2 separate regions of the Homo sapiens genome follow, and region 1 is linked to region 2. Evidence: fine-mapped expression QTL. Tissue or cell type: whole blood. Region 2 holds a variant in brackets; the other region holds the start of a gene. All regions are shown on one strand. Distances are from middle to middle. Region 1 holds the start of DDX18 (DEAD-box helicase 18). Region 2 has its middle 48 kb from the start of DDX18.

Region 1 (5,387 bases), 48 kb before region 2:
TTTTTGAGTAGCTAACCCAATGACATTGTTTTCTTTGCTAGAGTAACTGATGATGTGGCCTTGGAAATTCACTCTGTTAAAAATAACTCTCAACCCTAATTTTGAGAGTTGATTTGAAGTTATAATTTCTCATTCTTCTTCTAAAAATCCAGAAGAATTGGCATCAGTAGCTTTATCTATGTTTCTTAAAAGGTTATCAATCCCTAACGTTAAGCATTTCCATGCACCTGAAAGGATCGGCTTCTCTGATCTAAATGTCTTAAACACCTCGTAAATGTGGGTTTTTTTGGTTTTGAGGAAATGACTGCCAATCTTCACTACTAGCTAGAAAAAGTCACACTCTAGAAAAAAGGGAGTACCTTTCCATTACTACTACCAAAACATAGCCCCACAAATTTAAGTTACAACATAAAAGAAATAACAAATTTTGAGCACTTTCTATATATACTTCAGTTGTATCTATTTCAAAGTCACAGACCCAAAACTCACACATGTAATCAGGTAAATATATATGTATGTACATAGAGCTATAGAAATAGATACATATGTGTATATGCATATATATACTGATATATGCATAAATTTAAACTGGCATATATATTTACACTGAGATAAATGTTTGCGTGTGTGTGTGCGCTCTTACATTTCTGAATCATTCTTCAGCCTGCCTGATCATTAACAAATTAATCTAAGCACATTATTATTTGTTTGTCTTAGTTTTCCAGTCCAATCCAATGTGATTTCGAAGTCAATTCCTTCACATTCTGTTTAAACTCCCTCCCAAGTTTTCTCCCTCTCTGTTCCTCACTATGATCAGGTCTAATCTCCAGGGTCTCATGTTCTGCCCCTCCAAGTAAACAAATTAATCCAGGTTTCATGGACTCTTCCAGTTGTTCAGCTCAAATTGATTACTGTTAAGGGGAATTTGAGGGCATTGGGCCAATTTTTAAAGACAAATATGAATTTTTATGGAAATCTCCAAGTATTTTAATGTTGATAACAATTTTTTTAAAAATTAAATACTATATGCATACCCCTGTCTTCCTCCCCATCCCAAAAAAGAGATGACTATTAGCTAGCCACATTGCAATTTCTGTCCTGGACTGCTGAAGGGTCCTTGGGTATACTTAAGGAATATATAAACCTCTTTTTCAAACTGCAGTCAACCTATTATTAATGTAGTAAAGTTAATTTAAATTCATAGGAATCAGTATTTTTAGTAAGCTAAAAAGAATAATTTAGGATGGAATGAATGGAATTGAAGGAAAAAGAGTGAAAAGCAAGAATATTATTTTGAGAAATGTTATATTTATGTGTGTATGTGTACCAAGTGACACAGAAATTGTATTTCTGAGGAGAGTGGCCAAACAAGTTTGGAAATGCATATATATAATTTAGTTCTATTCAGTTTCCCAAATACAGTTGTCCCTCAGTATCCACAAGGGATTGAGTCCAGGACCCTCTATGGGTACCAATATCTTAGGATACTCAAAACCCTTATATACAATAGTGTAATATTTGCATTTATTTTACACACAACATCCTGTATACTTTAAATCATTTCTAAATGACTTATAATACCTTATACAACCTAAATGCTATGAAAGTAGTTATCACACTGTATTATTTTTAATTGTTTTTTTTTTAATGTTTTCAATGGGGGAGTTGGTTGAATCCACAGACAGGGAATTCAGGTACAGGGAGGGCCAACTCTAGTTCTGCACCCACAGAGGATAGGAACATAAAAATGCGGACTCCCTAAGGCCTCCTTCCCCTCCACGTTCTTTCTTCAGTCTTCCTCTAGGGGGAGCTCAAGTTAGCTTTAGCACAGTGTGAAGCCAGTGCAGCGTCTCGCTTCCACTTCTCCAGGGGGCGCTGCAAAGATTTTGGTCGCCAAAGATATCACGGTGCGCGCGTCTGGAAGCATTTCCGCTCTGGAGCATTTTCGTTCCGCCGGGTGCCAGCGTTCCTGTGACGCGTTTCCTGTTGGCCGAGCTGCGCACGTGCGGCCGGAAGGGAAGTAACGTCAGCCTGAGAACTGAGTAGCTGTACTGTGTGGCGCCTTATTCTAGGCACTTGTTGGGCAGAATGTCACACCTGCCGATGAAACTCCTGCGTAAGAAGATCGAGAAGCGGAACCTCAAATTGCGGCAGCGGAACCTAAAGTTTCAGGGTGAGATGCGTTGACTCGCGGTGGCTCAGAAGACCCACGCGCGAGCCCTGGCGCGTTCGGGCGGCCGGGGGCCCAGCTGCTCTGTGTGACGGAGGCAGCTTCCCCTGCAGCGTGTGTGATTGGGGAGAGTGAAAAGGCAGCTTCCACTCGGGACCCGCGCTGCTGCCCACTCGTCGCGTGGCTCCAGCGCTGCTCCTGACCTTTCTGAGCAATCAGTGTCTTCTTACAACGTTAGAGCGGGAGGACTCCCCGTTCACTTCTAGGCTTACGACTAACCCTGCCTTTTGCATTTCCACCTTAGCTTTTGGTTCCCTCACCACCTGCAAGTCGCACCTCACCTCATCCCTCATTTCCGGTTATGCTGCATGAAACGTCTCATTTCCACCCACTTTTCACATCTATTTAATTCCCGTATTTCTTTCCCCAAAAGCCCGTCTGGCTGTTTCCACAGAGCTTCTTTGATACTATTGCCTTCCTCTACCCACTTCCACACGTTCTCGTAGCACTTTCTCACCAGAGCTTCTACGTATTTGTGTCCCGCACAGTGACCTAAATGAAAAGGATTTTATCTGAATGTCACCTTTCTTACCTACCTCATTTGCAGTCCCAGTGTCCTGACAGTGGGGCCACAGATCTTGAAGTAATTGTGTTAACCTGTTGTCCAGGTTAAGATACAAACTCCCCGAGGGAAAGTTTGGAGGCACAGTGCCTTGCCCCAGTTGGTTTTCAACAGACATTAATTGAAAAAAAATTCTGCAGGAGGCAATAGGTTTGTGAATTTTAGGAATATGTTTTGAAATACTCTTGTATTTCTAATTCCTATAGAATAATACTACAGCATTACTACTTTTCAGCGCATATGTAAGTAAATTTGAACAAAAGATGGTGTTTTATCTTTTTCAGTAAACAAACAGGGAACCTTTGGTAAGGACATTCTCAGGTACAGTCATGCATCGCATAACAGGAGGGGGGATACATTGTGAGAAATGTGTCATTAGGGGCTTTTGTCGTTTTGCGAACTTTATCTAGTTACACAAACCTAAATCTACTACACACCCAGGCTACATGATATAGCCTGTTGCTCGTAAGCTGTCATCCTGTACAGCATGTTACTGTACTATACTCAGAGAATTGTAACACAATGGTAAGTGTATGTATGGCTAAATATATCTAAACATAGAAAAGGTACAGTAAAAAGACTATGACATGAGAGATTTAGAAAATGGTACCTCTGTATACAGTACTTACCATGAATGGAGTTTGCAGGACTGGAAGTTACCCTGAGCGAGTCAGTGAGCGGTGAGTGAATGTGAAGGCCTAGAACATTACTGTACACTATAGACTTTATAAACACTGTACACTTGGGCTACACTGTTGAGTTTTTTAATACTTTTATTCTTAAATTAACCTTAGCCTGCTGTAACTTTTACATTATAAACTTGTTAAATTTTAACCTTTTGACTTTAATAACACTTAGCTTACAACACAAGCACATTGTACATACAGCTGTACAAAAAGTTTCCTTTTGTCCTTATTCTATGTGATTTTTATTTTATTTTTTTTTCTTTTTAAGCTTTTTGTTAAAAATGTAAAGACACAGACACATTCAGTTTCACTGTCTTCCGCTTCCACATCTTGTCCCACTGGAAGATCTTCAGGGGCAACAATAGGCATGGAGCTGTCATCTCCTATGATAACAGTGCCTTCTAAAATACCTCTCTCCCTGAGGCTCTTTTACAGTCGACTCATTTTTTTTTAATAAGTAAAAGGAGTAAACTCTAAAATGATGATCAAAAGTATAGTAAACACATAAACAAGTAACATAGTTTATTATCACGTATTATGTATTGTACATAATTATGTGTGCTGTACTTTATACGACTGGCATTACAGTAGATTTGTTTATACTAGCATCACTACAAACATGAGTAATATGTTGCACTACGACATTGCAGTTACTGATGGCACTAGGTGATAGGAATTTTTTAGCTCCGTTATAATCTTATGGAGCCACTGTATATGTTGTCCTTAATTCACAGAAATGTCATTGTGCACGCATTACTGTATTTGCATATGATAAATATTGGAGCAAATAAGTGGTCTTATCAACTGAATTTTCAACTCACTGCAGTCTAGAAGAGTTGGGGTTGAATGTTTTGAAGTGGTATGAAAAATAGTACTTGTGTGAATGAGTTGTAAATGTCTTTTTCAATATATCAGTTAATCATATGTTTATCAAATACTTATGTTTATTCTGTAACTGCCATTATCTGACCTCATCTGTTTAAATATTTGACCTCATTGAAGTTTTCCTGTCCTAGACTCCTTAAAGTCAGATGTACGGTCTTTTGCAGTTAAGAAATCAATATAGCTTTCCCTTTTCCAGTATTTTTTCTTTAAGATAACTTACTTTCCCTATAAGGGAACACCATAAAACTATAAGTTGTTTTAATTACATGAAAGAGAAGAAAATCTAAATAATTTGTGTCAGGAAGCCATGGAAGTTCTCATTTGGGATTTCAGTGTTTCTAAGTAAACTTCTCCTTCTTTGTCACAGTATATGTTCTGTTTATTTAAACAGGGGCCTCAAATCTGACCCTATCGGAAACTCAAAATGGAGATGTATCTGAAGAAACAATGGGAAGTAGAAAGGTTAAAAAATCAAAACAAAAGCCCATGAATGTGGGCTTATCAGAAACTCAAAATGGAGGCATGTCTCAAGAAGCAGTGGGAAATATAAAAGTTACAAAGTCTCCCCAGAAATCCACTGTATTAACCAATGGAGAAGCAGCAATGCAGTCTTCCAATTCAGAATCAAAAAAGAAAAAGAAGAAAAAGAGAAAAATGGTGAATGATGCTGAGCCTGGTAGGTATTTATTATCTTTGAACTTCAGCCATTTAGTTTTTCACAGACGGTTATTGTTCCTCTTTCTATTACTATTGTGTGCACATGACATGAGAATTCCCTGTACTCACCAGTATGTTAGAGATTAGCCTGGTAGCTAATGGAAACATTTTATTGGCAGAAGCGGGGAGTCCATTTCAACTTTTCTCAAAATATTGAGGAATATATTTTTAATTTCACTAACCTTGAAGAAAACCTCTCTCAGAAAAGACTCTCCTTAGAATTCTAGAAATTTTCTCTTCTTTTTAAGTTACCTTTTTTCCTGCTTGATTCTTCCCATTTTCCTTCCATAAATTCCTCCCTTTGAAA
Region 2 (5,387 bases):
CTCACCTGGCACGCAAGTGAGGGGTTCGCCAGCTGCGTACTTGGTGCGCGCAGAGGAAAGGGTTTCACAATCTGCACGTTAGGGAGGCAGATCTGACACCGACCCACGACGCACGATATGGCCGGAGGGGCTTGTAGGTTCAGCCCGTCTCAGTAGCGATGAGGGCACATCTTGTTACCTGCACTATCTGTTGTTTTCCCCCTCAAGGGCCCCTGTCCATGTGAGTCCTGGAGCCGCCGGCTTCCTTGTCCCAACTAGACCTAGAGGGGATGCAGTGGACTGGGAATTCGTCTTTCAGAAATTCCTGTGACCAATCACGCCTTATTTTCTGTCTCCACCGTACCCCAGTCTATCCTCTGCAGTTCAGAGACTATTCCCCAACTCCATTAGCCAGCACCCTGCCAAGGGGAATAGTGAGGATTTTAAAATATAATAATTGGTGTCACTTTGCTTTCCTTATCTCAACCCCGGAGCTATCCTCTAGTGATTTAGGAAAGAGAACCATGGATTCAAATCCCAGCTTGGGACATTAGGACAGTTGCTTAATATCTGTGGGTCTCATTTCTTCATCTTTAAACATGTTCATTCGTAATTGATAGGGCTCTTGGTGAGGATTACGTGAGATGAAGAATGTAAAGCACCTGGCATAGTGGCTGGCACACACTGGGTGGCAGACTGGCTGGAGAAAGAAGGGGTTCAACAGGATATTGCCTGGCAGTCCATAAGGAGGAGGAAGATAATGCTGGAAATGTAATGAGATGAGCAAAATTGCAGTCGGCAGATCTTCTCTCACCGTATTTATTATTCTGTCTGAAGCTTTCTGCCTTTTGGCCAGGATCTAATAGGTGCTCAGCATCCTTCTCACTCTGGAAGCCTCAACTTTCTCTTTTGAGGGTATCAGGTGTTTCAAGTAACATGCTCCCGGTCCTATAGATTAACAGGATTTATTGCCCTTTGCAAATACAATACATGGGTGAGGGAAGAGGTGCATATGAGAGCAAAAAGAGACAAGGAAAGTTTTTTGTTGCTAGTTTTGTTTTAATTTTGGAAAATTAACTCAGATACTTAGAATACAGGACAAATACATGTGATTTTTAAAGTAGGCCTTTTTTCTTCTACATTAAATGGCAGAGGAATTTTGCAGCATAAAATAGGAATGTCAAGACTATAACTGGAAGTGTTGGTGAGGGAGAGTTTTATTCAGAATTAATGATGTTCTTTGAAAGGTCCCTTGGAAATGCCTGGGGTGATTATAGCTTTTCTGTCTGATTGCCGAGCTAGGGCTGACTTTTAATAGCTACGTCAATCCAATGCGCACTTAGAGAAATCACGGTGAAATGGATGCCGGAAAACCTTGCCAAGCCTGATTTTAGTGTTCATTTTTGACAGTTCCCATTCAGGCAGGTGACACAGGGAAGAGGTGCCTGGATGAGAGGCTGGCCAATCTGGAGTGTCCATTGGTGGATAGAGAGAGCTCTGAGAGGAAGAGGAACTGTTAAAAATTTAGCCACTCCCGGCAGGAGGACCTGGGGCAAGCCCTTCCCCACTTTGGGCCTCAACTTCTCTAACATACAGTATTCTTCTAAGTCATGTCTAAGGGCCTTGAATCACAGGATGCTGAGATTGTAGATGGGGTAGTGTTCAGGAGCATGCTGCTTCTATGGGTCACAGCAAGCCCTCACTCAAACTTCTGGGTAATGTTCCTGAGTCCACGTTTGCAAGCCTTCTGGAAACAAGACATCTAAACAAAAGTGTAAAACACCGCGCCAGGAATACTTCCTCTCTACTTTCCCCCACCTGCATCATTCTACTCTCCAGGCGAAATGAGTTGTATTGTGTTTAGGCTCTGCAAAGTGTCTGTACTGTTTTCTGCAGGGAACAGGAGCCTATGTGAAGCCTGAAGGCCTCTGTTGATGAGGCTGTGTAAGACCTTCATCTTTTTCAGAATTCCGTGTCTAGGTCCCAACACTAACATATTATAAGACAGGGGTCTTATCAGAATGTAGTTTTTGGGCAATGATTAATCCTTTGGGGCAAAATGCAGTTTTTCAAAGTTGAGAAGGGAAAAAAATGTTTATTGAGTGAATTGTCTCTTCCAGACACATTTCTGATGCTTTACATTCACCCTTTCATTTC[A/G]TTCTCACAATTCAGTAAAGTTGGCATTAAGTCTCTATTAGTCAGGATAAGCTAAGGCATGCTGTGGTAACATGTAACCCCAAACCAGAAGTTTATTTCACTCTGACTTAAAGTTCAATGTGGGTCTGCATACCTGCACAGCTCTCTTCCAGGCAGTCTCTCATGATTTTGGGCCATTTATCATTTTTAGCTATGCTGCCTTGCACATGTGCCTTCCAGATTTATTGTGGGAGAAGAGCTATGTATGGAGATATGCCAGCTTTTTACTGCCTTACCCTGAACTGGAAGCATGTCATCACTATTTGCAGCCCATTGGCCAGCCATTGGCAGTGAATTGGAAGGGAGCATGTAGCTATCTGGTGAGCACTGTCTTTGCCATAAGGCCCTCATTTTACAGATGAGAAAACTGCAAGAGAAAACTATGGTAAGGCACCACAAACCTAGTTCATCCAAAACCACGCAGTTCCTGGGTAGAGAGTCTGAAGGTTGTACCAGATCTAAGAATCACTATTTTTGGCCAGGTGCGGTGGCTCATGCCTGTAATCCCAGCACTTTGAGAGGCGGAGGCAGGCGGATCACGAGGTCAAGAAATCGAGACCATCCTGGCCAACATGGTGAAACCCCATCTCTACTAAAAATACAAAAATTAGCTGGGTGTGGTGGCACATGCCTGTAGTCCCAGCTACTCTGGAGGCTGAGGCAGGAGAATTGCTTGAACCCAGGAGGTGGAGGTTACGGTGATGCGAGATCGTGCCACTGCATTCCAGCCTGATGACAGAGCGAGACTCCGACTCAAAAAAGAAAAAAGAAATCACTGTTTTCATTACTCCATGCCATCTCCAGGGACTTGACTTCTGAGGCCTGCCCCTCTGCTCATGGGTGTCTCTGCTTGAGAGGAATGAGGCAGTCACAGCCCAGTCAAGGTGGGTCCCACGAAGCAGGATCTCAAAACTACTCAGGTGAACTCTCCTTTTCAGGAGAGCTGAACACAATTGAGCACAAAAGCCTTGCCTGCTTCCCTCAGGGGACAGGTTTAATTCCTGCCCTGGTGTCTTTTCTTTCAACATCTTAAACTGAGACTCTGAGCATCCCATGTACACTATAATCTGCTCCCCACCCCAAAGCAAGCCCCATGGGTTACGATTACTTCCTACTGCCCTGTGCCCTTCACTGTTTAGAAAAGAAGAAACATTATTTCTTTGGCTTTTAAAATGTGACATTAAAAGGGTTTTTTTTTTTTTTCCTATCTCTCTCTCTTTTCTTTGCTATTGCTTGTTTGATTTCTGTGTGCAATTTGATGCTGGGACCTAGTTATCCATCAGGCGTAGTAGTCATACTACTTAGAACCAGAATTCTTTTAGGGACCCATAGAAATATTTTAATTTTAATTTCTTTTAAAATTAGAGGAAAAATGAATATAACACTAATGAATATATTATAATGAATCCAGTCTTGCTTATACTTGCTTATACTAATGTTTAACATAATTTTCAGTATTTCTTAATGAAGGAAGGGATACATTAAGGCAAAGATGTCTAGGGACCACACAAATTATAATGAAGCCTTGGTTAATATCTTGCCCTCATTCTTTTTTTTAATCGTACTATTGCTTTCTTTTTAAAATTTTTAAATATATTTTTTAATAGCTTTGGGGCTACAAGTGGTTTTTGTTTACATGGATGAATTATATAGTGGTTAATTCTGAGACTTTAGTGCAATTGTCACCAGACTAGTGTCCCCTTCTAAGTCTCCAAAGTCCATTATATCACTCTGTGTGCCTTCCCATATATTCATAGCTTAGCTCCCACTTATAAGTGAGAACACATGGTATTTGGTTTTCCATTCCTGAGTTACTTCTCTCAGAATAATGGCCTCTAGCTTCATCCAAGTTGCTGCCAAAGACATTATTTTATTCCTTCTTATGGCCAAGTAGTATTCCATTATGTATATATACCACATTTTCTTTATCTACTCATTCGTCAATGGGCACTTAGGTTGGTTCCAAATCTTGGCAATTGTGAATTGGGTTCTTGCACTCATTCTTAATAAATATATATTGGGAGATAATGTACACAGTGGTTAAGAACATGGGACTTGGAAACAAAGAAACGTGGGTTTCAATTTTTTTGACTGCCACTTATTAGCACTTCAGCCAAGTGACTTAATCTACATCTGCAATTCTGCATATGTAAAATGGAAATATTACCACGTGTCTTTTAATATTCTTGTGAAGAGCAAATGAAATTCTATCATATGTGGAGTCCCTTAAGTAGTAAACCATAAATAATAGCTACCGCATTACTTTTGTTATTTTTCTATTTCTCTTTAATAAGAAAAGTATTATTTTATTTCTCTTATTGCTATTCCTCATAATCATAGGTAGATTATTTATTGCTTGTGTAGAAAATTATCCCACAGTTTAGTGGCTTAAAAGAACAAACATGTATTAATTCACAGTTTCTGTGGGTTGGGCATTCAGAATGGCTTAGCTGGGTGGTTCTGACTTGACATCTCTTTTGGCTGTAGGCAAGATGTTGCATGGGGCTGCAGTCATTCAAAAGCTTGACTGAGGCTGGAAACTTTGCTTCCAAGATGGAGCACTCACATGCCTGTTGACAAGAGGCTTCAGATCCTTGAGAAAAGGACATCTCCAAAGGGCTGCTTGGGTGGTACCACATGATAGCTGACTTTCCCCAGAGCAAGCCGTCCAAGAGAGTGAAGCAAGGAGGAAATTGCAGTGCCTTTTATGACTTAGTCTCAGAAGTCACATATGATTATTTTCTATTCATTAGCAGTGAGTCACTAAGTCCAGCTCACACTCAAGAAAAGAGGAATTAGGCTTCATCTTCGGGAGAAGTATTTCCCAAAACATATTGAATGTAGTGTTCAAAATTACTCGATTGACTTACTGATCTTATGTACCAGGCAATGTCCTCTGAGGTTTCAAAGAATGAATAAGCACTTTCCTGCTCCCAGTGGATTTTTAGTAGATTATAATTATAGAATTATAAATGCAATAAAGTCTTATAAGTGCTCTGCTAGAAATCTGTCCAAAGTACAATGGTATCTGAAAGATTTAATAGTGTATGGGAAAGCACTATGTAAACTGTGAAGGGCAAAGTAAATGTGAGGTATTGAGCTTTAGGGTTTATGGCAACTTGGAACATAGATTTTAGATTATGCTGTATTACAAAAATTTGACTTTCTAAGCCAGTCCTCTTTGTTGACGTTTTGTTTGAACAATGACACAC

What was found. PIP is the estimated chance that this variant, and not a neighbour inherited with it, causes the effect.
Region 1: it holds the start of DDX18, and the variant in region 2 is fine-mapped to the expression of DDX18 in whole blood (INTERVAL, PIP 0.92).

What each region holds. Positions count from the first base shown.
Region 1 is chr2:117,812,690-117,818,076 of GRCh38, forward strand. It overlaps DDX18 (DEAD-box helicase 18), which reads left to right and starts at 2,002. Exons shown (of 14, transcript NM_006773.4): 1 at 2,002-2,173; 2 at 4,755-5,039. The coding sequence starts at 2,089. RefSeq lists enhancers at 1,764-2,058, 1,786-2,323, 1,869-1,998, 2,129-2,178, 2,199-2,248 and 1 more.
Region 2 is chr2:117,860,430-117,865,816 of GRCh38, forward strand. It overlaps the pseudogene HTR5BP. Among named protein-coding and RNA genes, the nearest start is that of DDX18, 48 kb to the left of the region's middle. The variant A/G (reference allele first, on the strand shown) is at 2,137.